7 separate regions of the Homo sapiens genome follow, and all the other regions are linked to region 4. The links come from fine-mapping of genetic effects on gene expression. A gene starts in region 4. Each other region holds a variant in brackets. All regions are shown on one strand. Distances are between the middles of the regions. Region 1 overlaps ART3 (ADP-ribosyltransferase 3 (inactive)). Region 2 overlaps PPEF2 (protein phosphatase with EF-hand domain 2). Region 3 has its middle 2.4 kb from the start of PPEF2. Region 4 holds the start of NAAA (N-acylethanolamine acid amidase). Region 5 has its middle 8.6 kb from the start of PPEF2. Region 6 overlaps NAAA (N-acylethanolamine acid amidase). Region 7 has its middle 16 kb from the start of CXCL11.

What was found.
Region 1: its variant is fine-mapped to the expression of NAAA in aorta (GTEx, PIP 0.98).
Region 2: its variant is fine-mapped to the expression of NAAA in monocytes after triphosphate RNA (Kim-Hellmuth 2017, PIP 0.95).
Region 3: its variant is fine-mapped to the expression of NAAA in whole blood (TOPMed, PIP above 0.99).
Region 5: its variant is fine-mapped to the expression of NAAA in whole blood (TOPMed, PIP above 0.99).
Region 6: its variant is fine-mapped to the expression of NAAA in whole blood (TOPMed, PIP 0.95).
Region 7: its variant is fine-mapped to the expression of NAAA in NK cells (Schmiedel 2018, PIP 0.95).

What each region holds. Positions count from the first base shown.
Region 1 is chr4:76,076,857-76,080,923 of GRCh38, forward strand. The region is part of intron 2 of ART3 (ADP-ribosyltransferase 3 (inactive)); the gene reads left to right. Among named protein-coding and RNA genes, the nearest start is that of ART3, 4.2 kb to the left of the region's middle. The variant G/A (reference allele first, on the strand shown) is at 2,013.
Region 2 is chr4:75,857,754-75,861,820 of GRCh38, forward strand. PPEF2 (protein phosphatase with EF-hand domain 2) reads right to left here. Exons shown (of 17, transcript NM_006239.3): 17 at 2,114-3,167. The coding sequence ends at 2,914. Among named protein-coding and RNA genes, the nearest start is that of PPEF2, 43 kb to the right of the region's middle. The variant G/T (reference allele first, on the strand shown) is at 2,449.
Region 3 is chr4:75,902,863-75,906,929 of GRCh38, forward strand. No RefSeq gene overlaps it. Among named protein-coding and RNA genes, the nearest start is that of PPEF2, 2.4 kb to the left of the region's middle. The variant T/A (reference allele first, on the strand shown) is at 1,819.
Region 4 is chr4:75,939,051-75,943,117 of GRCh38, forward strand. NAAA (N-acylethanolamine acid amidase) reads right to left here and starts at 1,963. Exons shown (of 11, transcript NM_014435.4): 1 at 1,694-1,963; 2 at 951-1,115. The coding sequence starts at 1,899. RefSeq lists silencers at 1,246-1,315, 1,716-2,185.
Region 5 is chr4:75,908,978-75,913,044 of GRCh38, forward strand. It overlaps a transcript of NAAA not described here. Among named protein-coding and RNA genes, the nearest start is that of PPEF2, 8.6 kb to the left of the region's middle. RefSeq lists enhancers at 1-617, 618-1,539. The variant G/A (reference allele first, on the strand shown) is at 2,190.
Region 6 is chr4:75,917,486-75,921,552 of GRCh38, forward strand. It overlaps NAAA (N-acylethanolamine acid amidase), which reads right to left. Exons shown (of 11, transcript NM_014435.4): 6 at 3,466-3,638; 7 at 3,253-3,315; 8 at 2,424-2,490; 9 at 1,276-1,304. Among named protein-coding and RNA genes, the nearest start is that of PPEF2, 17 kb to the left of the region's middle. The variant C/T (reference allele first, on the strand shown) is at 2,142.
Region 7 is chr4:76,050,431-76,054,497 of GRCh38, forward strand. It overlaps a transcript of ART3 not described here. Among named protein-coding and RNA genes, the nearest start is that of CXCL11, 16 kb to the left of the region's middle. The variant C/CTTTT (reference allele first, on the strand shown) is at 2,284.

The sequences.
Region 1 (4,067 bases), 140 kb after region 4:
TTGTTAGCTGCCACATTACTTGTGGGTATTTGTGCACCATTTTAGATGCCTTTTTAAAAATATCTTAAATTCTTAAACTGTTATCCTTTTTTGAATTTAATATTCTAATCCATTTTCTATAGAATCATTGTGTATCCTGTTTCCTGTGTCGCAGTATGTTTTTTATTGAAATATAATTTACATACCATAAAAATTCACCATTTTTAGCTGTATACTTCAGTGGTTTCAGTATATTCATTATGTTCTGCAACCATCACCACTATCTGATTGCAAAACATTTCCGTCAACCCAAAAAGAAACCCTGTACTTATTAGCAGTCAGCCCCAATTTTCTCCATCCCCCATTCCCTGGCAACCACTGTCTACTTTCTGTGTCTATGGTTTTGCCTATTCTGGATATTTCGCCTAAATGGAATCATACAATATGTGACCTTTTGTGTCTGGCTTCTTTCACTTAGCATAATGTTCTCAGGAGTCCTATCAGTACTTCATTCTTTCTTATAGCCGAGTAATATTCTATTTTATGGCCGTACCGCATCTTGTTTATCCATTTATCAGCTGATGGACATTTGGGCTGTTTCCACTTTATGGCTATTACGAATAGTGGTGTTGTGAACATTTATGTACAAGTTTTTATGTGAACATGTGTTTTATTTTTCTTTTTAAAAAATTTTCTAATCATATAGTCTTGACATATTGAGATACTACAAACACTATTTGGTTATTTGGTAGCATTACAGAGTAAAGTTTACTTATATATAGGAAATATATATGTAAGAATGAATTTGGGGGTTATGATTTATGATTCATAGCAAAATTACCTATTGTTGTGAACATGTTTCACTTCTCTTGGGTGTACACCTAGTAGTGGAATTGCTGGGTTGTACGGTAATTTTATGTTAACTTTTTTAGGAACTGCCAAACTTTTTCACACTAGCTGCATGGTATTACAATCCCACCAGCAGTATATTAGGATTCTAATATCTCTGCATCCTTGTGTTACATGTTACTTGGTTTTTCATCATTTATAGCCATCGTAGAGGATATGAAGTGGTATTTCATTGTGGTTTTGATTTGGTTTTCAATATACTCTTGCAACATAATTTAAGTGTATTTGTTCTGTAATTGTTTCATGATTTGCTTAGCCAGTTTCTCTCCTTGACCTTTAGGTCATTTCCATATTTTTGTAAGAAATTTTTGGTAATTGAATTTCATTAGTATGGGCTTTTTTTCTCGGTGGTTATATCAGAGAAATATAATCAGCTTGTTCACCTAGCCTTTTGTACCTGTTTTTTAGTATCTGTTCAGTTGTCCCTGAATAGTGGTGGCATTTATGAACTTTGTCACTGCTCAAGGCACGCACCATACAAAATACACAATCAGCTATGGTGTCTGGCCAGAAAGACTTGATGTCTAAAATTAGACATTTGGAGACTGGTTAGAGGCATAGGGAAAAGACAGGAACATAGTAGATCAACTCTGATATAATGTAAGGAATGTGGGAGGTGTTTTCAGGGTCTGGTGTCTTATACGGTGTTGAAGTCTTGAAGATAAATCAGGCATTGGCACCCAAGCTGCACTCTGGTACATTCTGTGCTGTGGAGGAAAGTGCATTTCTTGGCTATGAGATGGCAGTGATTTGATCTCCTGAAGCTCAAATTCCCATGTCAGGAAACTGACCTACAAACCCAGGACTACGGGGGTCTTAATGACTTCCATGGCAGAATTCTCTGTGGCTAGTAATCAAGATAGTTTCTGAAGCTGGCACAATTCCCTCGTTTGTAAAATGGTGTTAACTATTTTTTGTTAACCTTTTATAAATGTTGTAATGAAGACAGAATTACACTCTTTTTCAAGTGCTACATAAATGTCCATGGTCTTCATAATTGGAAACATTCTGATTCTTTAGAGGCAACAGAACAGTTTGGTTAAGAGGACAAGACGGCCGGGCACGGTGGCTCACGCCTGTAATCCCAGCACTTTGGGAGGCCGAGAAAGGCAGATCACGAGGTC[G/A]GGAGATCGAGACCATCCTGGCTAACATGGTGAAACCCCGTCTCTACTAAAAATACAGAAAAATTAGCCGGGCGTGGTGGCGGGCGTCTGTAGTCCCAGCTACTGGGGAGGCTGAAGCGGGAGAATGGCGTGAACCCGGCAGGCGGAGCTTGCAGTGAGCCGAAATAGTGCCACTGCACTCCAGCCTGGGCGGCAGAGCGAGACTCCGTCTAAAAAAAAAAAAAAGGACAAGACTCTGGAATTAGACTGCCTGAGATCAAATTCCAATTCCATGTAAGTCTCAATCTCTTAGTTTCCTCATCTTTGTTAAAAAAAAAAAAAAAAAAGGCGGGGGGCTAATAATAGTACCTACCTCACAAGGTTGCCGAACACTTAGTGCCTGGCATATAGAAAGAACTCTGGAGATGTTTGTTAAACTTAGTGATAGAGTGTCCACCCAGTGTGTCTGAGAAGGAAATATGTAGGAAAAGTTCACAAATGAAAAATGGTTTTAAATAAGAACCAGGTCGTTGTGGCTGTACGATTGTAAGTTTCGTCTTAGACATGTTACGTATGAAGGTTCTTTGAACATTCAAGTGGAGGTGTTAAGTAGGCAGATAAATTTGATATATAGGACTGGCACTTACAGGATAGATCAGATATATTTAGATCATAATTGAAACTGTAAGCATGTATATAACTGCCTGGGGAGCGTAGAGTTGAGAGTTAGAAAATACGTAGCCTTGAGGAACTCCAACATTTAATGGCTAACTGGAATATGTTGGGTCTGCAAAAGAGTCTAAGAAGAAATGCTCCCTTAAGTGAGAGCTGTTTGGGTGGAGAAATGGGTGGGAAGCCATAATGGGGAGGGTTGAGCTATACGTGGGAAATGAAGTGGAGATGGCAAGGACAGACATCTCTTTCAAGATGTTTGTTCGTGAGGGAGAGAAGAGAGATGGGAAAGGAGATACCTAGAGCAGGATATGGAAGCAAGTTTTGTTTTGCGTTTACAAGTTAGTATCTCTGTCTCTCTCTCTCTGTCTCTCTCTCTTTCACTCTCTCTCTCTCTCTCACACACACACACAGAGAGAGAGAGAGAGAGAGTTTTTAAGTATCATTCACATAGAACCTGTAACTTTTTTTTTGAATCTGTAACTTTAACAGCTTCTAGCTAAATATGTCTATAAAGTCTCCAACTGAGGTCCCTAAGCAGACTTATGCAACTATGCACCATACAAGTATAGACTAATGGAAGAGGCATTATCCTTTTATTTGTAGAAACTCATAAATGGTATTCCTGGGGAGATTTGATCATCTTATTTTTTGATCCATAAGCCAGAGTACAGGGTTCTAATGTAGTTCACTTGAATATTTTGCCAGGTTCTGTGCTAGGTGTGTAGGATTCAAAGATAAAAACGATACAGACCGTACCCTTAAGGATCTAACAGTATAATACATATATTCCTAGCATGAAATAATACAAAAAAACCACATCACACTGGAGAAAGACCTTATGAAAAAATAATAATAACCACGGCATGTTAAAGACTTGATATGTGCCAGGCATGGGGCAGAGGGCTTTGCATATGTTCATTACATAATTTAATTCTCACAGCCATCCCACAGTTAAATACTATTTCCTCCACTTTGTCTTCCTTTTTTAATTTATTTTTTATTTTTTGAGATGGAGTTTTGCTCTTTTGCCCAGGCTGGAGTGCTGTGGTGCAGTCTCCGCTCCCTGCAACCTCCGCCTTCTGGTTTCAAGCGATTCTCCTGCCTCAGCTTCCTAAGTAGCTGGGATTACAGGCGCCTGCCACTACGCTCAGCTAATTTTTGTATTTTTAGTAGAGATGGGGTTTCATCATGTTAGCCAGGCTGGTCTTGAACTCCTGACCTCATGATCTGCCCGCCTCGGCCTCCCAGAGTGCTGGGATTACAGACATGAGCCACTGCACCTGGCCTTTTATCCTAATTTTTTTTAAAATTGAAAACTTGAGGATTAGAAATGTCAAGTAACTTTCCCATACCTAGTTAGTAACAAATGGGATTTGAACTCTGATCTGCCTGGCTTCAAAG
Region 2 (4,067 bases), 81 kb before region 4:
CATAGATTGTATATAGACAATCCAAACAGATAATACAGTCATGGGTATAACTGGAAAGAATCCTAGGTGGAGGCAGAAATCATGGGCTCCAGTCCTGGCTGTGTTAGTAACTTAGATCACATATACACAGCAAGTTCTCTAAACCTCAATTTCCTTAGTTTATAAATAAAATAAGGTTGTGGAGACAGCTTTGGATTGCCAAGACCAGCTTGGCTGGGGAGACCCTAACCCAGCAGCGCTAGAGGAATTAAAGACACACACACAGAAATATAGAGGTGTGAAGTGGGAAATCAGGGGTCTCACAGCCTTCAGAGCTGAGAGCCCTGAACAGAGATTTACCCACGTATTTATTAACAGCAAGCCAGTCATTAGCATTGTTTCTATAGATATTAAATTAACTAAAAGTATCCCTTATGGGAAATGAAGGGATGGGCCAAATTAAAGGAATAGTTTGGGCTAGTTAACTGTAGCAGGAGTGTGTCCTTAAGGCACAGATCGCTCATGCAATTGTTTGTGGCTTAAGAATGCCTTTAAGCAGTTTTCTGCCCTGGGCGGGCCAGATGTTCCTTGCCCTCATTCTGGAAAGCCCACCACCTTCCAGCATGGGCGTTATGGCCATGATGAACACGTCACAGTGCTGCAGAGATTTTGTTTATGGCCAGTTTTGGGGCCAGTTTATGTCCAGATTTTGGGGGGCTTGTTCCCAACATTGGATGTTAATTACATAAATGCATAGTAAAATATCATGGAAGCACTATCATTCACCTTTTGCATAAGTTAGAAATGATCCCACTAAAAGCTTATGAGTTTATGGTAGAATTGGTATGCCCAGTTCTGAAGAGCAACCTGGCAATACGTATCATGCCATTAAAATGTTCATACCTGTGATGGTTAACTTTACGTGTCAACTTGATTGAGCCACAGGATATTTAGATATTTGGTTAAATATTATATGTGGGTGTGTCTGTAAAGATGTTTCTGGATGAGATATGACATTTGAATCTGTAGGCTGAGTAAAGGAGATTGTCCTTGCCAAGGTGAGTGGACCTCATCCAATCTGTTGAAAGCCTGAATATAATAAAAGGCTGAATAAGAAAGAGTTATTTTTCTCTGTCTCACTGCCTTTGAGCAGGGACATTGGTTTTTTCCTGCCTACTCAAACATGAACTGGAACTGACTCCGTTGGATCTTCTGAGTCTCAGGCCTTTGGACTTAGACTGTAACTGACACCATTGGCTCTCCTGGTTCTCTAGCTTGCCAGCTGCAGATCTTAGGACTTTTCAGCCTCCATAATCATGTAAGCCAATTCTTAATAGTAAATACTTATGTAAATTTCATATTGGTTCTGTTTCTCTGAAGCACCTAGACTAATACAACATCCTTTGTCAAAGTAATCCCATTCCTGGGAATTTATACCACTAAAATGTAAAATTCAAAAGATTTGTGTAAAATAAGCTGTATGCACTATGTTATTAACTACAGTGTTTTTTTTTTTTTATTTTACTTTAAGTTCTTGGCTACATGTGCTGAACATGCAGGTTTGTTACACATATGTATACACATAGGTATACATGTGCCATGGTGGTTCGCTGCACCTATCAACCTGTCATCTAGGTTTTTGTTTTTTTTTTTTTTTGAGATGGAATCTCGCTCTGTCACCCAGGCTGGAGTGCAGTGGCGCGATCTCAAGCTCCGCCTCCCGGGTTCACGCCATTCTCCTGCCTCAGCCTCCCGAGTAGCTGGAACTACAGGCACCCGCCCAGCTAATTTTTTGTATTTTTTTAGTAGAGACGGGGTTTCGCCGTGTTAGCCAGGATGGTCTCGATCTCCTGACCTCGTGATCCGCCCGCCTCAGCCTCCTAAAGTGCTGGAATTACAGGCGTGAGCCACCGCGCCCGGCTGTTATCTAGGTTTTAAGCCCCGCATGCATTAGGTATTTGTCCTAACACTCTCCCTAGTGTTATTTCTAATAATGAAAAAGTGGAAATAATACACATGTTTAACAATTGGAGAAGGGCTGCATAGATTATAGCACATTCACTTCAAAGAAAATTATGCAAGCATTAAACTAATTATCATGAAGAATACAGAATCACAAGGGAAGCACATGGGAAAGGGTTTACAATTAGATATTAATTTATTTTTTTAAAAGTAGAACATAAAATTATATAAACACTACAGTAACAAGTAAGAAAAAGTAAATAATGAAGAAAATCCATATGCTTGGGTCATGGAATTACAATACAATTTTTAAAAATAACTTTCCTTTACCAATAGACATTGTTAAAGACAATAAATAAAAAGTATAAAATAGGCTGGGTGCGGTGGCTCATGCCTGTAATCCCAGCACTTTGGGAGGCTGAGGAGGGTGGATCACCTGAGGTTGGGAGTTCAAGACCAGCCTGACCAACATGGAGAAACCCTGTGTCTACTAAAAATACAAAATTA[G/T]CCTGGTGTGGTGGTGCATGCCTGTAATCCCAGCTACTCAGGAGGCTGAGGCAGGAGAATCGCCTGGGAGGCGGACTTTGCGGTGAGCCGAGATCGCGCCAATGCACTCCAGCCTGGGCAACAAGAGAGAAACTCCATCTCAAAAAAACGTATAAAATGAAAACAATGAGAGAGTTACATTGTCAGTGGTTCTTAACTGAAGTGGACTTTAGAATTTGAAAACACTATACCTAAGTTCTACTTTGTGAAGATTGTGAGGTGGGGTTGGGGCACTCATATACTTAAAACACATACATACACAACACCCCAACCCACCCCTCCACACTGAAATACACAGGTGATTCTGATGCATATGGATAGGTAAATTTTCAGCATAAAGTTTCACATGGAGAATAAGGGAGATAGTCTAGTGAGAAGCTGAGCATTGCCTATGAGGCACTTTGGGTGATGAAGACCAGGCTGTTCTTAGTGTGCACCTGGACTGCTGCAGCCACTGTCTTTAGCATTTGTAGCTTGTGGGCATTCTGAGGCATCGCCCTCTGGGCAGGATTTCTCCACAAGGCGGAAGGCCTCCAGGAACTCATTGATATCAATGTGGCCATCTTTGTTGAAATCAATGCTCCGAGCAAGGTCACAGATGCAGTCATCTGTAATGTCGATATTCATGTGAGAGCTGAACAGCTTCCAGGTCTGCCTGAACTCGTCCAGTGAGATGAACCCTTATCAGAGGGAGGAAATCACTTCAGTGAGTTAGTCTAGTTTTTAATGTTCATTTTCTCTGACATTCTTACAAGGACACCTGCTCCCTACTGCTCAACAGAGAGACACACAAATCCTAGTATCTAATTTAAACTCCCAAGAGGATCACACAAACCCACTGGCTCACCAATGATTTTCAGCTGGGAGTAATTGTGCTCCCCTCCCTCCAGGGGACATTTGGCAATGTCTGGAGACATTGTTGTTTGTTATGACTAAGATGGAGGTGAGGTGCTACTGGCATCTAATAAATAAAGGCCAGACATGCTGCCAAACATCTTATAATGCACAAGATGGACCCTAAAACAAAGAATTATCAACAGTACCACTGTTGAGAAACCCTGCATTTAATCATCTCAAACATATCCTAATTTATTCTGGCCATTAAAATCCTCTGGACCCCATACATCTATAGTCAATTGATTTTTTTACAAGGGTCCCAAGATCATTTAATGGGGAAAGAATAGTTTTTTTCAACAATGATGGGGGACAAGCAGATATTCACATGCAAAAAGAGTAAAGCTAGATACCTACCTAACACTATATAAAAAAAACTAACTCTATATGGATCAAAGACCTAAATGTAAGAGCTAAAACTCTAAAACTCTTAGAAGCAAACATAAGTGTAAATCTTTGTGATCTTAGGTTATGCAACAGTTTTTTTTTTTTTGAGAGGGAGTCTCGCTCTGTCACCCAGGCTGGAGTGCAGTGGCACAATCTCAGCTCACTACAAGCTCTGCCTCCTGGGTTCACGCCATTCTCCTGCCTCAGCCTCCCGAGTAGCTGGGACTACAGGCACCCGCCACCACTCCCGGCTAATTTTTTGTATTTTTAGTAGAGACGGGGTTTCACCATGTTAGCCA
Region 3 (4,067 bases), 36 kb before region 4:
ACCTAATCTGTGGTTAATCACTATTCTTGGACAACTTACTTTTTCAGTTAATCTAAGATGCTCGTGTGTGTGTTCTGGTAGGTACTAAATGCACCATGGAAATTCTCAAAGAAAGTGATATTCTGTTTGTCTATATCTAGTAGGTCAAGTTTGTTCATTATTATTATTATTATTATTATTATTTTGAGACAGTCTTGCTCTGTCGCCCAGACTGGAGTGCAGTGGCACAATCTCAGCTCACTGTAACCTCTGCCTCCTGGGTTCAGGCAATTCTCATGCCTCAGCATCCCGAGTAGCTGGGATTACAGGCACCCCCGCTGCCATGGCCAGCTAGTCTTTCTATTTTTAGTAGAGACAGGGTTTCTCCATGTTGGCCAGGCTGGTCTCCAACTCCTGGCCTCAAGTGATCTGCCCACCTCAGCCTCCCAAAGTGCTGGGATTACAGGTGTGAGCCTCCACACCCGGCCTAAATTTGTTAATTATATTAATTCAGATCCTCTTTATCTTTGTTTATTCTTCCTGATCTGACCATCTTTGAAAGAGGTATTTTGAAGATTTCTATGACAAGTACAGATTTAGCAAATTCTCCTTGTATTTGAGTCTTTGCATTACACGTTTTGAAGCTATATAATTAGATATTAAATTTAAACCATGTAAAATTGCCATCGGCAACTGTGTAATTACACATGAAGCCGTATTGTCATTTAACTGTCTTGGTAGAGGGTGACATAAAAATTAAATATCACTCTGCCTTTTAAAATTCTTTTTGCATTTGATTCTCTTTTGTCTGATATTAACATTTTCACATTAGCTTAGTTTTTGTTAGTGGCTGACTGCTAACATTCTTTCTCCAAGTTGACTAAAAGACTGATAAAATCCTGTATTACTGAGAGTATGAGAAAAAGGACCCTCTCCATATACTATTGCTGGGATCGTTAAAATGTTTCATTTTGGGGGAATTAAATTAAATTTTAATTGTAATTTATTAAATTACATACTTAAAATATGTAAATCCTTTAATCTAGAAATTATACTTCTAAGTATCTTACAGAATTATACACCCATGCAAAAATCTATATAAGGATTTTTATTACTGTATAATTTGTGATTAGGAAAAGTTGGAAAATAACCTAAGATATTTTTTTATGTGGTATTACCCATATTTTCTAGTTTCCATATTGATGCTTTGACATTTTGGGGCCTTGTTGACCAGGGAGAGACTACACCTCCTGGGATTAGCTGATCCCTGAGATGCAAACTAACCAATCTAGAGCCCTACCACCAAATCCCTCCTTTTTTGGACTTTCATACTCAAGGCCGTTATCTCTCTACCCTAATCACCCTGACATCATATATCAGACAACTCAGTGCAGTCTACAGTCAGGAGTCAGCTGACACTATTCCAACTAGCTAGTCCTCCACCTGCTTAGCCGCCTTACCCTGCCTCACCCATTCCTTCCCTCGAAAACCACAGTTCTCCTGTCCTCTGCCTGTGACCAACCTCAGTGTTCTCTCCCGTGGCTGTGCAGGTGTGACCTCTCCTCTTGGGAACGAGGAGTAATAAGCTATCTTTTAAATGGCAATTGTCCCCTGATCTGTTGGCCTTATCATACCTGAATAAAAATAGAATCTACATTTTAAAACGTTTATGCATTTTTAAATGTCTTAATGAGTACAGATGGCAGTTATCACTAGGGGTACTCATGGGGAGAGTGCCATCCACAAGTGGGGAAGAGAGGCAGAGGATCACATTATGTACTGTTTGATTTATTTTTATATTAGAAATCTGTTACTTGTGTTCTTATTATTATTATTTTT[T/A]TTTTTTTGAGACAGAGTTTCGCTCTTGTTGCCCAGGCTGGAGTGCAATGGCGCAATCTCGGCTTACTGCAACCTCTGCTTCCTGGGTTCAAGCGATTCTCCTGCCTCAGCTTCCTGAGTAGCTGGGATTACAGGCATGTGCCACCATACCTGGCTAATTTTTTATTTTTAGTGGACACAGGGTTTCTCCATGTTGGTCAGGCTGGTCTTGAACTCCTGACCTCAGGTGACCCGCCAGCCTCAGCCTCCCAAAGTGCTGGTATTACAGGCGTGAGCATGGTGATGCCCAGTCACTTGTGTACTTTTTAAAAACAGAATATTTTGAAAACCAGCTCTCTCCATCTGCCATGAAAGCTCTGTAGGCCAAGCCATTTTTATTTAAAAATATATATATATTTTTTGAGAACGGGTCTTACTTGCCCAGGCTGGTATTTGCAGTGGCACAATCACAGCTCACTGCTGCCTTGACCTTCCCGGACTCAGGCAATCCTCTTGCCTCAGCCTCCCAAGTAGCTGGGACCACAGGCATGTGCCACCATACCCACCTAATTTTTGTATTTTTTGTAGAGATGGGGTTTTGCTATGTTGTCTAGGCTGGTCTTGAGCTCATGCAATCCACCTGTCTCGGCCTCCCAAAGTGCTGGGATTACAGGTGTGAGCTGCTGCGCCCAGCCAAAATTTTTTAAATAAAATTTTCAATTTTATTTATTTATTTATTTATTTTAGGCCAGGCGTGGTGGCTCATGCTTGTAATCTCAGCACGTGAAAGGCCGAGGTGGGTGGATCACTTGAGGTCAGGAATTCAAGACCAGCCAGGCCAACACGGCAAAAGCCTGTCTCTACAAAAAATACAAAAAATTAGCAGGGGATGGTGGTGTGTGTCTGTAGTCCCAGCTATTGCAGTGAGCAGAGATCACACCACTGCACTCTGGCCTGGGCAACTGAGTGAGATGCTGTCTCAAAATAAAAAAATAAATTTTAACTTTTTAATTAAAAAATTTTATTGCCTCTTGTTTTTAAAATTTATTTTATTTTGGTAAGAACACAACATGAAATCTACCCTTTTAACAGATTTTCTTCTTTTTTTGAGACAGGATCCCACTCTGTCACCCAGGGTAGAATGCAATGGCATGACCACAGTTCATTGCAGCCTCGACCTCCCAGGCTCAAGTGATCCTCCCACCTCTGCCTCTTAAGTACTTGGGACTACAGGCACACATCACCACTCCCAGCTAATATTTTTATTTTTGTAGAGACAGAGGTCTCACTATGTTGCCCAAGCTGGTCTCAAACTCATAGACCCAGGCAATCTTCCTGATATGAACAGGAGACGGGGAAATACTGGAAAGTTATTTATTTTGTTTGATTTATTTACCTGCCAAAAGCCCCACCCTCAAGCCTGGAAACCCGAGGCCCCAAATGGGAACAGGCATTCCTGTTTTCGTGCCCAAATGTTGCATCTTGGCCCGCCACACCCCACATCCTGTACCCATATAAACCCCGAATCCCTGGGTCCATGAGGAGATGAGCAGAAGAGCCAAAGAACTGAAGAACGGCATGGCAGAGAAGGAGCATCTGAATATCTAGAGGAGTCCAGCTGGGGACAGTTGGAGAGGAGTTCTGCCACAGGACTGCTGAACTCCAAGGGAAGATCATCTTTCCACTCCGTCCCCGTTCCAGCTCCCCATCCATCCTGCTGAGAGCCACCTCCACCACTCAATAAAACCCCCATATTCACCACTCTTCAAGTCTGTGTGTAACCTGATTCTTTCTGGGTGCTGGACAAGGGCCCGGGTACCAAGGGGACACTGAGCTGGTTAACACTTAAGCCATCTGTGGATGGCAGAGTTAAAAGAGCACTGTAGCATGCCTACTGGGGCTTCAGGAGTCAAAGCACCACCCCTAGAAGCTGCCCTGGGGCCAGAGCCCAAAAGCGCTCACTCTGGTTCCTGCACCTGCCTGTCTGTATCCTCCCGCTCCTATAAGGGGTTTGAGCTTGTGGCAGCTGAACAGAGATCAACACCCCTGTTGAGTGTCCTGCAAGGGGAGCCAGGGAACTCTCCTGTTTCACCCCCACCTCCGCCTCCTAAAGTGCTGTGATTATAAGATAAACCACCACGCCTGGCCTCTTAACAGATTTTTAAGTGTACAATAGGCACGACGTACAGATCTCTAGAAGTTATTCACCTTGTATAAATGAAACTTTACACCAGTTGAATGGCAACTTCCTATTTCCCCAGCCCCTTAGC
Region 4 (4,067 bases):
CCATGTTGGCCAGGCTGGTCTTGAACTCCTGACCTCAGGTGATTCACCCGCCTCGGCCTCCCAAAGTGCTGGGATTACAGGCGTGAGCCACCGCGCCCAGCCTGGATGCACATTTTATCATGCCCACTTCCCGGTCCAAACACTGGCTGGCCCTATTAGAGCAGTGTTCCCTGTCGCCCCAGCCCTGGTGGACACAGACACTTCAGCCACGACACACATGAAAGGATAAATGCAGGGCGACAAATAAGGGCAGAGATGAGCCACTGCCAGTATAGAGCTGGAAGGCCACTGAGTTAACTAAAGGGTCCAGATGAGAGGAGGCTTAGTTTCAAAAACTTCCTGGAAAAGTACGTTTTGAGCAGAATTTTTTTTTTTTTTTTTTTGAGACAGAGTCTCGCACTGTCGCCAGGGCTGGTGTGCAGTGGCGCGATCGCGGCTCGCTGCAACCTCCGCCTCCCGGGTTCAAGTGATTCTCCTGCCTCAACCTCCTAAGTAGCTGGGATTACAGGCGCCCACCACCACGCCTGGCTAATTTTTTGTGTTTTTCGTAGAGACGGGGTTTCACTATGTTGGCCAGGCTGATCTCGAACTCCTAACCTCGTGATCTGCCCACCTTGGCCTCCCAAAGTGCTGGGATTACAGGTGTGAGCCAACGCGCCCGGCCTTTGAGCAGAATTTTAAAAGTACGCTACCTGGATTGGGGAAGAGAAAACCCGGGGCTACACGTAGAGGGAAAGTTTAGTGTTGAATCGGAGAATCTGCTTTCCCTCTCGAAGCCTACGATGTGCAGCTCAGATTTACCCAGAGAGGCAAAGAGGAAGCGCTGGAGGTTTCTAGGCAAGCAGGCACCGCCCTGTTTTTATCACACGGAAAATATGTCTCCTCCCGCTAGTCTGTGTCGGGGGCCCCCGCAAGCCCCGCGTTACTCCGCGCGGGCTTGGGGCACTCACACGGAGGACTCGTAGGCCAGGTTGACCAGAAGGCAGTCCGCCAGGCTGAGGTTCATGAAGTCACACATGCCGCGGATCTCGCCGGTGAAGGGCTGGGGCAGGAAGCGCTCCAGCTCCAGGACCACTTTTCCGATTAACACGTGCACCCACTTGGGGACTCTGTCCCTAGAAACAAAAAGCACAAGGGCGTCTGACCCGCTCAGAGGTCGGCGGCGTGCGACTGCGTGTGCACTGCGAGCGGGGCTACATCCTTAGGGCGTGAGGTCTCAGGGCCACTGCTCCCCAGTCAGTGGACCGCCCAGGCGCGGCGTCACTCAATCTGCAGCCTCCCGGGAGTGGGGGGAAGGGGGCGGGGGGAAGGCGGCGGGTAAGAAAACTCCGAATGGGGAGGGCGAGTGAGGCTGGTCCCAAAGGGGCAAGCTTGGAAGGCCCGCGAGGCCCGCAAGGAAGGCGCGGGTTGCCCCTCCTTGGTAGCTATGCAGCCCGGGCGACAACTCGCGCGCCACGCTGACCCGGAATGGCTCAAGGACTGGCGTGCCACGGGTGACACCGAACTTGAAAGCCGAACCTGCCGCGCTGGATTCTCCCCAACCCGGACGCTGCTCAGGGCGGCAGCCAAAACCAGTTCTCCAAGGGTGGCGGGGAGTAAAGCGTCCCCGTTTAAAGCACTCTGAGCAGCGCGCGTTTGACTCCGACCCGCAGGGCCGGTGTCCCCGCAGACCCCGTCCAGGGCCCCAGCTCACCCGATGACTTGCGCCATCGCGGCGCGCACCAAGTCCAAGTCGTAGTGCCGCAGCACGGGCAGCCAGCGCAGCTCGGGGACCGAGTCCAGGCTCACGTTGAAGCGCGGCGCTGCTGGGGGCGAGGCGGCTGACAGCCCGGCCCCGGCCAGCAGCAGCAGCAGCAGGGACGGAAGCCCCGGGCGCGCCTCCCGGTCCGCGGTCCGCATGGCTCGGGCTCCAGCGGCCGCAACTTGGAGACCTGCAGCCGCTGTCGGAGCCCGGGTAAGCCGTGGAGGAGGAGGAGCTGGGGCTGGGCTGCGATCGCTGGAGGTGGGGCCCGCGCACGACCCGCCCGCCCCTGTCACCGGCAAGCCGGAGCGGCGACACCTCCCGTCCCCGCCGCGCATCCACTAGCCCGCCCCGACTCTCCATCGGGCCTGGAGGTCCCTGACCGCGGGGCCGCTAAGGGTTGGGGCTGCCGGCAGCCGGCTTCTCACCAACTGCCGGTTCCAGCGCACCTGCTTGGGCCGAAGGAGTGTAGGCTGCGGCCGGGAGGGGCTGTAAGATTTTCAGTAGCGAAAAGGTGTCAGGAAAGACTTTTCAGTTAAACTTTGTTTGCTTGTTTGTTTGTTTGTTTGAGATGTAGTCTCACTCTATTGCCCAGGCTGGAGTGCGGCGGCGAGATATCCGCTCACTGCCAACTCCGCCTCCTGGGTTCAAGCGATTCTCCTGCCTCAGCCTCTCAAGTAGCTGGGATTACAGGCGTCCACCACCATACCTGGCTAATTTTTGTATTTTTGGTAGGGACAGGGTTTCACCATGTTGGCCAGACTAGTCTCGAATTCCTGACCTAAGGTGATCCACCGGCCTCAGCCTCCCAAAGTGCTGGGATTACAGGCGTGAGCCACCGCGCCTGGCTGGTAAAACATTTTTTTAAAGCTCAAAATTTAGTGAACATTTATCTGCTAAATATTTTTCGCGGACATTATCTCATTTAATCATCAAAACAAGCCAACAGGTAGGTTCCACTAATCCTCGCTTTACTGATGAGGAGTGTGAGGCTTGGAGAGGTGAAGCCATGTACCCGAGGTTACTCTGCTGGTGTGTCTCTGCACTGGCCTCCAAGTAAGGAGGTCTGAATCCACAATCCACCTTCACACCTAAGTTTCTTCACCTTTGAGTTCCCAATGTCTGGGAGACAAACTTAGGAAAATCTTAGTAAGGCTGGGACATTCTTAACGGTTAGCACAGTTGTCTGTGGGTAAAACAGGGTACATGTGTACATGAATAGTAGAAACTAAATGAAAGGGCCGGGCATGGTGGCTTAGGCTTGTAATCCCAGCAGTTTGGGGGGCTGAGGCGGGTGGATCACCTGAGGTCAGAAGTTTGAGACCAGCCTGGCCAACATGGTGAAACCCTGTCTCTACTAAAAATACAAAAATTAGCCGGGCGTGGTGGTGTAATCCCAGCTACTTGGGAGGCTGAACAGGAGAACCTCTTGAACCTGGGAGGCAGAGGTTGCAGTGAGCCGAGATTGTGCCAATGCACTCTAGCCTGAGTGACAAGAGCAAAACTTTGTCTCAAAAAAAAAAAAAAAAAAAAAAAAAAAAAAAAAAAAAAAAAAAAAAACTAAATGCATAGTAGAAACTAAACACATTTTTTTTTTATTTTTTACCAATTTTAGGATGAAGAAATACAACTTTTATAATCAATCACTTGTTTTTAAGGATAACACTTAAAGGAATTACAAAATTTCTTGCCAGACATGGTGGTTCACGCCTGTCATCCCAGCACGTTGGCTGGCTGATCATCTGAGGTCACTTGGTTTAATGAATAGAATCAGAATTGCTGGTGGTTGACTTCCAAGACTAGGTCACAAAAGACACTGTGGGTTTCTCCTTGCTCTCTTGAATTGCTCACTATAGGAAGCCCATTGTCATGTCCTGAGGAAGCCCTATGAAAATGTCCCTTTGTGGCTGGACACAAATCTCAGCACTTGGAGAGTCAGGCAGGAGGACTGCTTGAGCCCAGGAATTGGAGACCAGCCTGGGCAACAGTGAGACCCCATCTCTACAAACAAATAAAAATAAATTAGCCGGGCATGGGGGCATGTATCTTTAGTCCCAGCTACTTGGTAGGCTGAGGTAGGAGGATTACTTGAGCCCAGGAATTTGAGGCTGCAGTGAACTATGATCACGCCACTGTACTCCAGCCTAAATGACAAAGTGAGACCCTGTCTCCAAAAAAGAAGTAAATAAAATTGAAAAAAAAGAAAAAAGAAAGTCCCTTTGTTGAGGAACTGAGCTTCTACCAAGAGCCAGAGAGGAACTGAGGCTTCTTGTCAAGTCATCTGAGTGAGCCATGGTGGAAGTGGACCTTCCTGCCTCAGCTAAGC
Region 5 (4,067 bases), 30 kb before region 4:
CCTAGTCTCAAGCAATCCTCCTGCCTCAGCCTCCCAAAGCGCTGAGCTACCGCACCTGGTCTTGACTTTTTTAGTTGGTCATGACAAGAATGACCCAATTCATATAATTAACTTTTTTTTTTTTTTTGAGACAGAGTCTCGATCTTGTTGCCCAGGCTGGAGTGCAATGGTGTGACCTCGGCTCACCTTCACCTCCACCTCCCAGGTTCAAGTGATTCTCCTGCCTTAGCCTCCCAAGTAGCTGGGATTACAGGTCCCCGCCACCACGCCCAGCTAATGTTTTTGTATTTTTAGAAGAGATGGGGTTTCACCATGTTAGCCAGGCTGGTATCAAACTCCTGACCTCAGGTGATCTGCCCGCTTCAGCCCCACAAAGTCCTGGGATTACAAGTGTGAGCCACCACACCCAGCCAATTAACTTTCATCTATCTTTTGTTACTATATGTTTTCCTTCCCACAATTTGCTGCCCCGAGAGACTCAAGGTCCTTTTCCTTTGTCTTGTCACTTCTCTAAAAATTTATAGTTCCTTTGCTAAGATGCCATATAAAAACAAGTTCAAAACAAACCTTTGAGTTACTCTTCTCTGGGTACTCCATATTGCGTATTCTGTACATATGTTAATCAACTTCTATTTGTTTTTTCAATTGTTAATCTTTTTTGTTGTTATGTTAATCTGTCTTTTGTCAGTCTAATTTACAAGGCCCCAGCTGAGAACGTAAGATGGGTAGAGGAATTGATTTTTCCTCCCCCACAGCGAGACCATCTTTTTTAATTTTTAGAGTCAAGTTCTCACTCTGTTGCTCAGGCTGGAGTGCCGTGGCATGATCATAGCTCACTGCAGCCTTAAACTCCTGGGCTCAGGTGATCCTCCCACCTCAGCCTCCCATGTAGCTGGGACTACAGGTGCACACCCCCATTCCCAGCAAAGTTTAAACAAATTTTTTTTTTTTTTTGAGACAGAGTCTCACTCTGTCACCCAGGCTGGAGTGCAGTGGCGTGATCTCAGCTCACTGCAACCTCCACCTTCCTGGTTCAAGCAATTCTCCTGCCTCAGCCTTCCAAGTAGCTGGGACTACAGGTGCGTGCCCAGCTAATTTTTGTATTTTTAGTAGAGACAGGGTTTCACCATATTGGCCAGGTTGGTCTCGAACTTCTGACCTTGTGATCCACCTGCCTCGGCCTCCCAAAGTGCTGGGATTATAGGCGTGAGCCACCACGCCCAGCCTTAAACAACATTTTTTTTAGAGACAAGGTCTTGCTATGTTGGCCAGGCTAGTCTCAAACTCCTGGGCTTAAGCACTCCTCAGCCTCCCGAGTAACTGGGATTACAGATGTGAGCAACTGTGCCTGTCTGTCTTCTTTTTAAAGGATGAATAATATTCCACTGTGTGTACATACCACATTTTCTTTATCCATTCATGCCTAGATGGACATTTAGATTGTTGATAAGAGTGTTACTTTCCTCCTGATATTGGAAGGACATCTTCCAAATGGAGATTTTATCTCTTGTTTTCAGGAAGAAAATGGGGAGGGTCAGAGTGAATTTCTTTTCCCTGCTGGTTTTGTAAGTGCCTTTAGCTCAAAATAGTCCTTATACCAAAGTGGCATATTTGGGGTAGTGTGTTCTGAGCTCCTTCAGCATACTTAAAGTTCAGGAGAAAAGACACAAGAGAATGTAGGTGAGCAATTCTGAGATAGCTGACTATTTTCCAAAATTGAACAAAAGACACAAACTTGAAATTTGGGGAGCACAACAAATCCCAAGCAGGCTTAAACAAAATTCAATATCTGGACACATTGTAGTTAAACCACGTGACACTGTTATCACTGTCACACACATCTGTGTGAAGAGACCACCAAATAGGCTTCATGTGAGCAATAAAGCTTTTTAATCACCTGGGTGCACGTGGGCTGAGTCCAAAAAAGGAGTCAGCAAAGGGTGGTAGGATTATCATTAGTTCTTATAGGTTTGGGATAGACGGTGGAGTTCGGAGCAATTTTTTGCAGGCAGGAAGTGGATCTTACAAAGTACATTCTCAAGGGCGGAGAGGATATTACAAAGTACCTTCTCAAGGGTGGGGAGGGTGTATCGTACAAAGTACATTCACAAGGGCGGGGGAATATCACAAAGTACATTATTGCAAGGGTGGGGAGGGTGTCTTGTCACAAAGTCAATTGATCAGTTAGG[G/A]TGGGGCAGGAACAAATCACAATGGTGAAATGTCATCAGTTAAGGCAGGAACTGGCTATTTTCTCTTCTTTTGTGGATCTTCAGTTGCTTCAGGCCATCTGGATGTATACGTGCAGGTCACAGGGCATATGATGGCTTAGCTTGGGCTCAGAGGCCTGACAATCACCTGATGGGTTCTTCTTGCTCACTGCACAGACAAAACCAATTCACTGAGATCATACTATTGCAGTAGAGAAAGAGTTCAATTAACAGTCCTAGCAGGAGCATGGATGTTATTACTCAAATCAGTCTCTCCAAGAACTCAGAGGCTAGGGTTTTAATGGATAATTTGGTGAGCTGGGGGCTAAGGAAGGGGGTTGCTGATTGGGGATGAAATTACAGGGGTATGGAAAACAGTCTTTATGCACTGAGTATGCCCTTTGGGTGAGGGCCACAGGACTAGTTGACTCATGGTCACAGGTCCTGGTGGGGTCCAGTGGTTGCCAGAATGCAAAAGTCTGAAAAACATCTCAAAAGACCAATCTTAGGTGCTATAGTAGTGATGTTCTCTACAGGAACAATTGGGGAAGTCACAAATCTTTGACTTCTAGCCACATGACTCCTGAGCAGTAAGGGATTATAGAAACTACGCCTACATTTAGCAGAATTCGGGTTCTTCCCATAATCCTAATCTCATAGCCTTCCATTAGTTTTACAAAGGTGGCTTTACTCCCTAGCAGGGCAGAGGTTAGTCTGAGGGTGGGGTTATTATCATCCTTTCTTTAAAGTTAAACTCTAAACTAAATTCCTCCCACGATTAGCTTGGTCTGTGCCCAGGAACGAGCAAGGACAGCCAGCCTGTGAGGCTAGAAGGAAGATGGAGTCAGCCATGCTAGACTTCTCTCACTGTCATCATCTTTGCAAAGGCGGTTTCAACAAAAAGGACAAATATCTGAAAAGCAACTAGAGTGTTGGATTACTTAAATCATTTTCCTGAGGAACAGCCCTCAATGCCTTCGCTTTGCCTGGTTAAAATTAGGGTATTCCCCAAATTTCCGAAGATCATGGCATATTTTCAAGAAAACAAAAATGGAATAAGACTAATAAGTAGAAATTTAGCCTGGCCAGGCTGGGCGCGGTGGCTCACGCCTGTAATCCCAGCACTTTGGGAGGCCAAGGAGGGCAGATCATGAGGTCAGGAGTTCGAGACCAGCCTGACCAACGTGGTGAAACCCTGTCTCTACTAAAAACACCAAAAATTAGCCGGGCATGGTGGCACACGCCTGTAATCCCAGCTACTCGGGAGGCTGAGGCAGTAGAATCGCTTGAACCCAGGAGGCGGAGGTTGCAGTGAGCCGAGATCGTGCCATCGCACTCCAGCCTGGGTGACAGAGGGAGACTCTGTCTGGAAAAAAAAAAAAAAAAAGAAATTTAGCCTGGCCAACATGGCAAAAGCCCATTTCTACTAAAAATACAGAATAAGCTGGGCATAGTGGCACATGCCGGTAATCTCAGCTACTCAGGAGGCTGAGACACAAGAATCGCTTGAACCCTGGAGGCAGAGTTTGCAGTGGGCCGAGATTGCACCACTGCACTCCAGTTTGGGTGGTGGAACAAGACCCTGTCTCAAAAAAAAAAAGACTAATGAGTAGAAATTTCTAGTTTCAATGGCTGTGTGATGTGTGATACAGCTGGCATGAGTAAACTACTTCTCATATTTGATTTTTAAAAGGGCATTGGATGATGAAAATTAAACGGTATTTATACGACACTGTCCAAGAAGAAACACGAATATTCTGGGCCACTAGAGACGTCTGCAGTATGTCAGGGGAGCGATGTTCTGTACCTGGATAACACTTCCTTCTAGACATTCTACTCACTATGCCAAAGGAAAAGTTA
Region 6 (4,067 bases), 22 kb before region 4:
ACAGAGTCTCGCTCTGTTGCCCAGGCTAGACTGCCATGGCATGATCTCAGCTCACTTGCAGCCTCGACTTCCCAGGTTCAAGCAATTCTCCAGCCGCTGCTTCCCAAGTAGCTGTGATAACAGGCGTGCACCGTCATGCCTGGTTGATTTTTGTATTTTTAGTAGAGACGAGGTTTCACCATGTTGGCCAGGCTGGTCTTGAACTCCTGACCTCAAGTGATCCACCCGCCTTGGCCTCCCAAAGGGCTGGGATTACAGGCGTGAGCCACCGCACCTGGCCTGCTTTCACTTAAAAAAAAAAAAAAAAGAAAAAGAAATTAAAAAGAATGTGAGTAAAATCCTAGGCTATACACTAGAGAAACCATTGCTCACAGAATGCTGCTATCAAGGGTACAGGCTAAAAAAGAACATTAACTAAGCGAATTGTCAGTGGAACAAGGAACAGCTTCGGAGATAGTGGAAATTCCTCCGGAGGATAAAAGAAAACCAAAGGTATTCAGAATTTATTTCTAAGGAGCTCCTAACAGGTGAAGGCTGTCCACAGCTACCTGACTGAGTTAGGATGAACACCTCACTGCCAGAATATTTCAAATGTAGGAATCAAGAGGTCAGCCAGTCAAAGTGTTTTTCCTTCTAGTTTGACAACACTATGGAAGGCCAAGTTTGAATTTAAGATTCCCAGAGCTGGCCGGGCGCAGTGGCTCACTCCTGTAATCCCAGCAATTTGGGAGGCCGAGGTGGGCAGATCATGAGGTCAGGAGATCAAGGCCATCCTGGCTAAAACGGTGAAACCCTGTCCCTACTTAAAAAATACAAAAAATTAGCTGGGCGTGGTGGCACGAGCCTGTAGTCCCAGCCACTTGGGAGGCTGAGGCAGGAGAATGGTGTGAACCTGGGAGGCAGAGCTTGCAGTGAGCCGAGATTGCGCCACTGCACTCCAGCCTGGGTGACAGAGCGAGACTCTGGCTCAAGAAAAAAAAAAATTCCCAGAGCCTCCTTCAGGGTCACTCTATTCTTTTTACCTTTGGATTTCTTCATGGACTTCTCACCTGATTTATATTTGTTTATCACCACCACCCCCACCCCACCCATATTAGTCCCATGAGAGCAGAGACTTTGTTTTGCTCGCAGCTGTACCCACAGGAGTGCCCCCACAGGAGTGCCCCCACAGCCTGGTTACAGGAGCCCTCAGATCCTTGCTGAGCCAAACAGTACGTGAGTGAGTTCACTGTTCTGGAGTGATGTGTGAACAGACATGTTTAACAAGCCACTTACTTGTTATAAACTGGAACCACCGACAAAATCTGCATAGGAAAAAGTCATTTTATAGAGAAGATTACATGGTAGAAGAAATACACATAGAATATCTATGGAGGGCCGGGTGCAGTGGCTCAGGCCTGTAATCCCAGCACTTTGGGAAGCCGACGTGGGAGGATTACTCAAGCCCAGGAGTTCAAGACCAGCCTGGGCAACATAGAGAGACCCTGTCTTTACTAAAAAAGAAAAAAAAAGAATGTCTGTAGAAAGAACATAACCACTCTTTAGTGTACCTTGAGGTGATATAGACTTTTTTTTTGAGACAGTCTTGCTGTGTCACCTGGGCTAGAATGCAGTGGCATGATCTTGGTTCATTGCAACCTCCGCCTCCCAGGGTCAACCGATTCTCCTGCCTCGGCATCCCAAGTAGTTGGGATTATAGGCACACACCACCAAGCCTGGCTAATTTATATATTTTTAGTAGAGACGGGGTTTCACCATGTTGGCCAGGCTGGTCTCGAAGTCCTGACCTCAAGTGATCCTCCTGCCTTGACCTCCCAAAGTGCTGGGATTATAGGTGTGAGCCACCACATCCGGCCTGACTTTTTAATTCTTTCTCTTTTTTTCTTTTAAACAATGAACATATATTACAACTATGACTTTTTCTTTTTAATATAAAGAAAAACTTTGGTGAAGATGGACATTTTAACTTATATAAAAGCAAGTTGAGAAAATGTCATATAATTTTTTTTTTTTTTGAGACGGAGTCTCGCTCTGTCAGGCTGGAGTGCAGTGGCGCAATCTCGGCTCACTGCAAGCTCCGCCTTCCGGGTACACGCCATTCTCCTGCCTCAGCCTCTGGAGTAGCTTGGACTACAGGCACC[C/T]GCCACTACACCTGGCTAATTTTTTGTATTTTTAGTAGAGACAGGGTTTCACTGTGTTAGCCAGGATTGTCTCAATCTCCTGACCTCGTGATCTGCCTGCCTAGGCCTCCCAAAGTGCTGGGATTACAGGTGTGAGCCACCACTTTTAATACATGATTTCAACCAAATAAAACTTTTACCCTAACGTTTTCATCTACCAGAAGATTTCACGGAGTTTTTCATATTCACTATTAACAAAACACCAAACATCCTAGGTATGCAGGACACTGTGACACAAGTTACCTGGAAAAGTGCCTCCAGGCTGAGGTTTGCTTGTCCTGTAGCATTAAGGGCCTTGATGGCAGATGTTCTGTAAGGACAAAGGTCGAAGGTCACTTGGCATTTCAACAAGCACTGAAGCCCATCAGCTGTCATTTTTGGGAGGCAGAATGCAAGCTCCAGTCTCATTATCTCCCTTTCTCCAAAACAGATTCTGGCCCCAAGCCTGTTTCCTGCTGAGGCCCAGCCCACCACAGTGGAATTCATCCAGCAGCTGGGACGGTTGGCACCATCTGCTCCAGAAAGCTGGGATGATGAAAATGTGTGGCTGCAGAACTGAACAGTGGCCAAACTTGTGGGGTAGTAAAGCCAAGGCAACGTATATAGCTACCTGCACTTTGGAACTGTGCTGACTTATAATTATAGAATGTTTACAACTTGAAGGGACAATAAAAACCCTTGACTGGTTTATTTATTGTTTAAATAAGGGAAATAATTTCCTTCTAAAAATATCTTGCCTAGAAGACCATGAACCTGGCCCTTTGCTTTCATTTTACAGACTGGTAAACAGAGGCCCGAGAGCCACCCAGTGAGTCACTAGCAGAGCTGGTGGTGGGCTCTAGGGCTCCTGACCCTGACAGCCTCCCAACACCCGCCCAGCTGCTGAGAGGCTCTGCCCACTGCTCTCCTCCACACAACACTCCCTTCCCAGCCAAGGCACTGGCGAAGGGGCTCAGGTACATTTTCTGGGAGAGGATAGCACCCATAGGTCTTGCCAGTTCCTGTGACAGAATGGGCATATTCTCCTGACCATAAGAAAACACTGCAAACCAGAAAGCACGTAGCAGCCTACCTCCGGTCATCTTCCTTGGGTGCTGGCTTCCAGTGGTCGTAATTTGTCTCAACTCGGAACCACCTACAACAGAGCACATCATCTTGTCTTATCCAAGGCAATTTACGACATAGCAGAGGAGACATATGAACAAATTTAAAATACCCCTCATTTCACCGATTAAAAAAAATGATTATCTGATACAAAATGACCAGAGCTTTCAATTCTACTTACGCTCCATTCAAAGGATCTAGAGGCCAAATGTCTGCTGGGCCATCTCTGTTCCTCGTGATGACCACCCCCTCCCGGGGGGACGTGCCACCAACAATGTAATAAACATCAGCAATAAGGGGAGTCTTGGCCAACTTGCCAACAGCTGCTTCGAAGTTTTCCGACTCACTCAGGGTCTGAACGAAAGGATGAACTTGCGTGAGCAACCCCACCTGCAGTTGGGTCCACACCAGATGATGCAAAAATGATCCAAAGCACATTCTCCTGATATGTTATGTCATGACTATCACCTTGATCTGCTCTGACCTTATCCTCTTGTTATCAGGGCTCCTAAGATGGAAGAAATTTCAGCTTCAAAGCGGAGCCAGGAGCAGCAGGAAATTCTGACAGGAGGAGAGAACTGTTGACAAGCCCTAGGCCTGGCTCAGCAAACACCGGCTGTGTGCTCTCCAGGCAGATCGCCCTCACAAAGGACTTTTTGTGCTTCTTCATTCATTTATTATTTAAACAGGGTTTTCTTGAATATCTACACTGTGCCAGGCACTGTGCTGGTGGGGGATAGAGCAGTGAATGAGTCGCCTGGTCCTATTCTCCCCAAGCCTCTG
Region 7 (4,067 bases), 110 kb after region 4:
AATTGGTGCATTCACAAACCCTGAGCTAGACACAGGGTGCTGATTGGTGTATTTACAAACCTTGAGCTAGATACAGAGGGCCGATTGGTGTATTTGCAATCCCTGAGCTAGACATAAAAGTTCTCCATGTTCCCACCAGACTCAGGAGCCCAGCTGGCTTCACGCAGTGGATCCCGCACCAGGGCTGCAGGTGGAGCTGCCTGCCAGTCCCGGTGCTGTGTGCCCGCACTCCTCAGCCCTTGGGTGGTCGATGGGACTGGGCACCGTGGAGCAGGGGGTGGCACTTGTCGCGGAGGCTCGGGCCACACAGGAGCCCATGGAGGGGGTGGGAGGCTCAGGCATGGCGGGCTGCAGGTCCTGAGCCCTGCCCCGCAGGAAGGCAGCTAAGGCCCGATGAGAAATGGAGCGCAGTGCCAGTGGGCTGGCACTGCTGGGGGACCCAGTACACCCTCCGCAGCTGCTAGCCCGGGTGCTAAGCCCCTCATTGCCTGGGGCCGGCAGGGCCGGCGGGCTGCTCCGAGTGCGGGGCCCGCCAAGCCCACGCCTACCCGGAACTCCAGCTGGCCTGCAAGCCCACGCGCAGCCCTGGTTCCCGCTGGCGCCTGTCCCTCCACACCTCCCTGCAAGCTGAGGGAGCCGGCTCCGGCCTTGGCCAGCCCAGAAAGGGGCTCCCACAGTGCAGCAGTGGGCTGAAGGGCTCCTCAAGTGCCGCCAAAGTGGGAGCCCAGGCAGAGGAGGTGCCGAGAGCAAGCGAGGGCTGTGAGGACTGCCAGCACACTGTCACCTCTCAAAAGTACAGTAGTATAGTACCTGATGCTGTTTTTTAGAGGGATTTAGGCATGCCAATGACTTTAGGGAGCTGCCGGTGGATTTTTTTTTAAGAGTTCTTAGTAGAATACTACTGTGAGTTTCTTATAATATTATTAAAATACCCGTCCCAGAAATGAGACAGATTCTGCAGGCTATATTCAAGGTAGCCATTAGGCACTGGGTAAGGCTCTATTTTTTTCATCAAAACTTGGAGTAAATTGTATAAATAACATTAAAATCATTAAGACGTTGAGGAATAATGCATGTTTTAATGCCATTGAAAAGAGTTCCAAAGTGATGATGAATTTTTTGTTTGTTTGTTTTAGACCTGCTCTATCGCCCAGGCTGGAGTGCAATGGCGTGATCTCGGCTGACCGCAGTATCTGCCTCCCGGGCACAAACCATCTTCCCACCTCAGCCTCCTGAGTAGCTGGGACTATGGGCACACACGTCCACAGCCAGCTAATGTTTTTGTATTTTTGGTAGAGTTGGGGTTTCGCCATGTTGCCCAGGCTGGTCTCGAATTCCTGTGCCCAAGTGGTCTTCCCACCTCAACCTCCCAAAGTGCTGGGATTACTGGCATAAGCCACTGTACCTGGCTGACAATGAATTTTAAATAAGGATGTTTCTGAGTTTATGTTGTATCTCTCTCTCTCTCTTTTTTTTTTTTTTTTTTTTTTGAGACAGAGTTTCGCTCTTGCTGCCCAGGCTGGAGTGGAGTGCAATGGCGCAATCTCAGCTCACTGCAACCTCCGCCCCTGAGTTCAAGCCTTTCTCCAGCCTCAGCCTGCCGAGTAGCCTGGATTACGGTCGCCTGCCACCATGCCCAGCTAATTTTTTTTGTATTTTTATTAGAGACGGGGTTTCGCCATGCTCACGCCTGTAATCCCAGCACTTTGGGAGGCTGAGGTGGGCAGATCACCTGAAGTCAGGATTTTGAGACCTGCCTGGTCAATATGCTTTATCTCTTTCTGGGACTTTGACATAAGAAGAGATTTCCAAAGGTTGTATTCTGCTAATGTAGTCTGGTATTTGAGAATGAGATATATCAATGCTCACATTTTATAAGGATGACTTCATCCTTGATATGTGCTACCCCAAACATTGCAGTCGCAAGTGCATGCACAGAATAAGGGCCAGTTTTCAGTGACTACCGTATCACCATACGGAACTTCTCATGCTTGAGAGAGCCACTGGTAGCCATCTACCTTTCCTTTCCTTGTCAGTATAAATTTGGGGGATACAAATATAATTTTGTTACATGGATATATTGCATAGTGGTGAAATTAGGGCTTTTAGTGTATCCATCACCAGAATAATGTACATGGTACCCATTAAGTAGTTTCTCATCATCCACCGCCCCCAACCCTTCCAAGTCTCCACTGTCTATCATTCCATACTCTATGTCTATGTGTACACATTATTTAGCTCCCACTTGTAAGTGAGAACATGCGTGTACCCAATTTCTTTTTT[C/CTTTT]CTTCTTTTTTTTTTTTTTAAGACAGAGTCTTGCTCTGTCATCCAGGCTGGAGTGCACGGGCACGATCTCGGCTTGCTGCAACCCCTGCCTCCCAGATTCAAGCAAACAGATTCAAGCAATTCTCGTGCCTCAGCCTCCCAAGTTGCTAGGATTACAGGCCTGTGCCACCGCACCAGGCTAATTTTTGTATTTTTAGTAGAGACGGGGTTTCACCATGTTGGCAAGGCTGGTCTCAAACTCCTGGTCTTAAGCCATCCACCTGCCTCAGCCTCCCAAAATGCTGGGATTATAAGCATGAGCCCCTGCACCCAGCTGGTGTGTACCAAATTTCTGACTTTAAAGGAAGGGCAGTTATTTGTTCCCTGAAAGTTGAGCACAAAAAGAAGAAATAAGCTTTAGTTTCCAGTGATTAAGGATTTGAAAAATAGTTACTGGTAGTTCAATTTACTTTGTTTTTTAACTATGCCTGTTCATGCTGATCACGTACAGGTTATCTCTATCTTGTCACTGGAATTGGATTGTTTCTCATTGGCTTAATTAAATTTATTGCACAGGAAGAGTCTTCCTGGAACATTTAAGCTATACCTGATTTATTAACTACAGCTCTCTCATTTTCTTATAAATTAATTAAGAGTTTGATCTACCATTCCTCTTCTGAAAAGAAAACAGTGTTTCTCTACCTTTTTGGTAGAAGAGTTACTAAAAAAAAACTAGCTATTATTTGTCTCTTTTTTCAACCTGGCAAAGCACAGTATATAAATATTGTTTGTTTTATCTATAACCAAATTTAATTGCCTTGGAATATTACTTTTTGCCAAGTCTACTGCCAAGTTAATTTTATTAGGGTATAATTAACAGTCGTCAAAGAAAAGCTACTTAATTTATTTCCACAGGAATTCAGAAGAAAAAAAGAATATGGGTTTAAAACCAATTACTTTCCTTTAAAATTGTAGGTAAAATTCAAAGTCGCATATGTTAAAATTTAGAACACAGAAGTAGAAATGATCAAGTTCTGCCAGCTCATTGAATAGACTAACCCTCTTTTCCATGTCCTCTGTACCTCTGTCAGAATGTTTGCTGTCATTTGTATGTATGTGAGCCAGGAACAGTGGGTTGTACAAAACAACTTCAGCATCACCATAAACTTCAGAGAAATCATGTTTCTCACAACAAAGCAGCTCTGTGCATGGCCTTTAGTTGGCTGCCTGGAAAATGACTGCACTCGACAACTGCCAGGTCAATGTAGACGTTCATGTTAATTTTTCAAGTTGGGAAACAACATGCCTATTGTTAGGGGATAGAAACGTGAGAGATTAAGCAATGAGCAACTTTACAAGCGACTAACTGAAGGAAGCTTGATTCAGTAAGAAGGGAGAAATAGTAGCTTCACTTACCATTATTAGTTTATTGCTTCTGCTACTCAGAGAAGCTGGAGGAGAGGAGAAAATAGATCTGGTCGATATTATTTCAGGGCTAGTTGGAAAGAGAATAAATGCACAAAGGAGCTTGCTTGGAGAGATGACCCCTGCATGTGAATGTTAGAAGAGCTATGTCTGCAAGGTATGAAGCTTCATTGGATTTATTTGTATTTTTAAAAAATAGAATATAGTAAAATGACCATTTATAAGGAGTATTTCAGGACACATCATTTGCCAGTTTGAACTAAGTGTTATTAAACTTAATGTTTTAAATAGATATAGTTGAGAGTGCGAATATAAAAAAAATAGGACAGGAAAGATGTTTTTTGTTCTAGCTATTTTATTTCTTATATAATCTTGATACT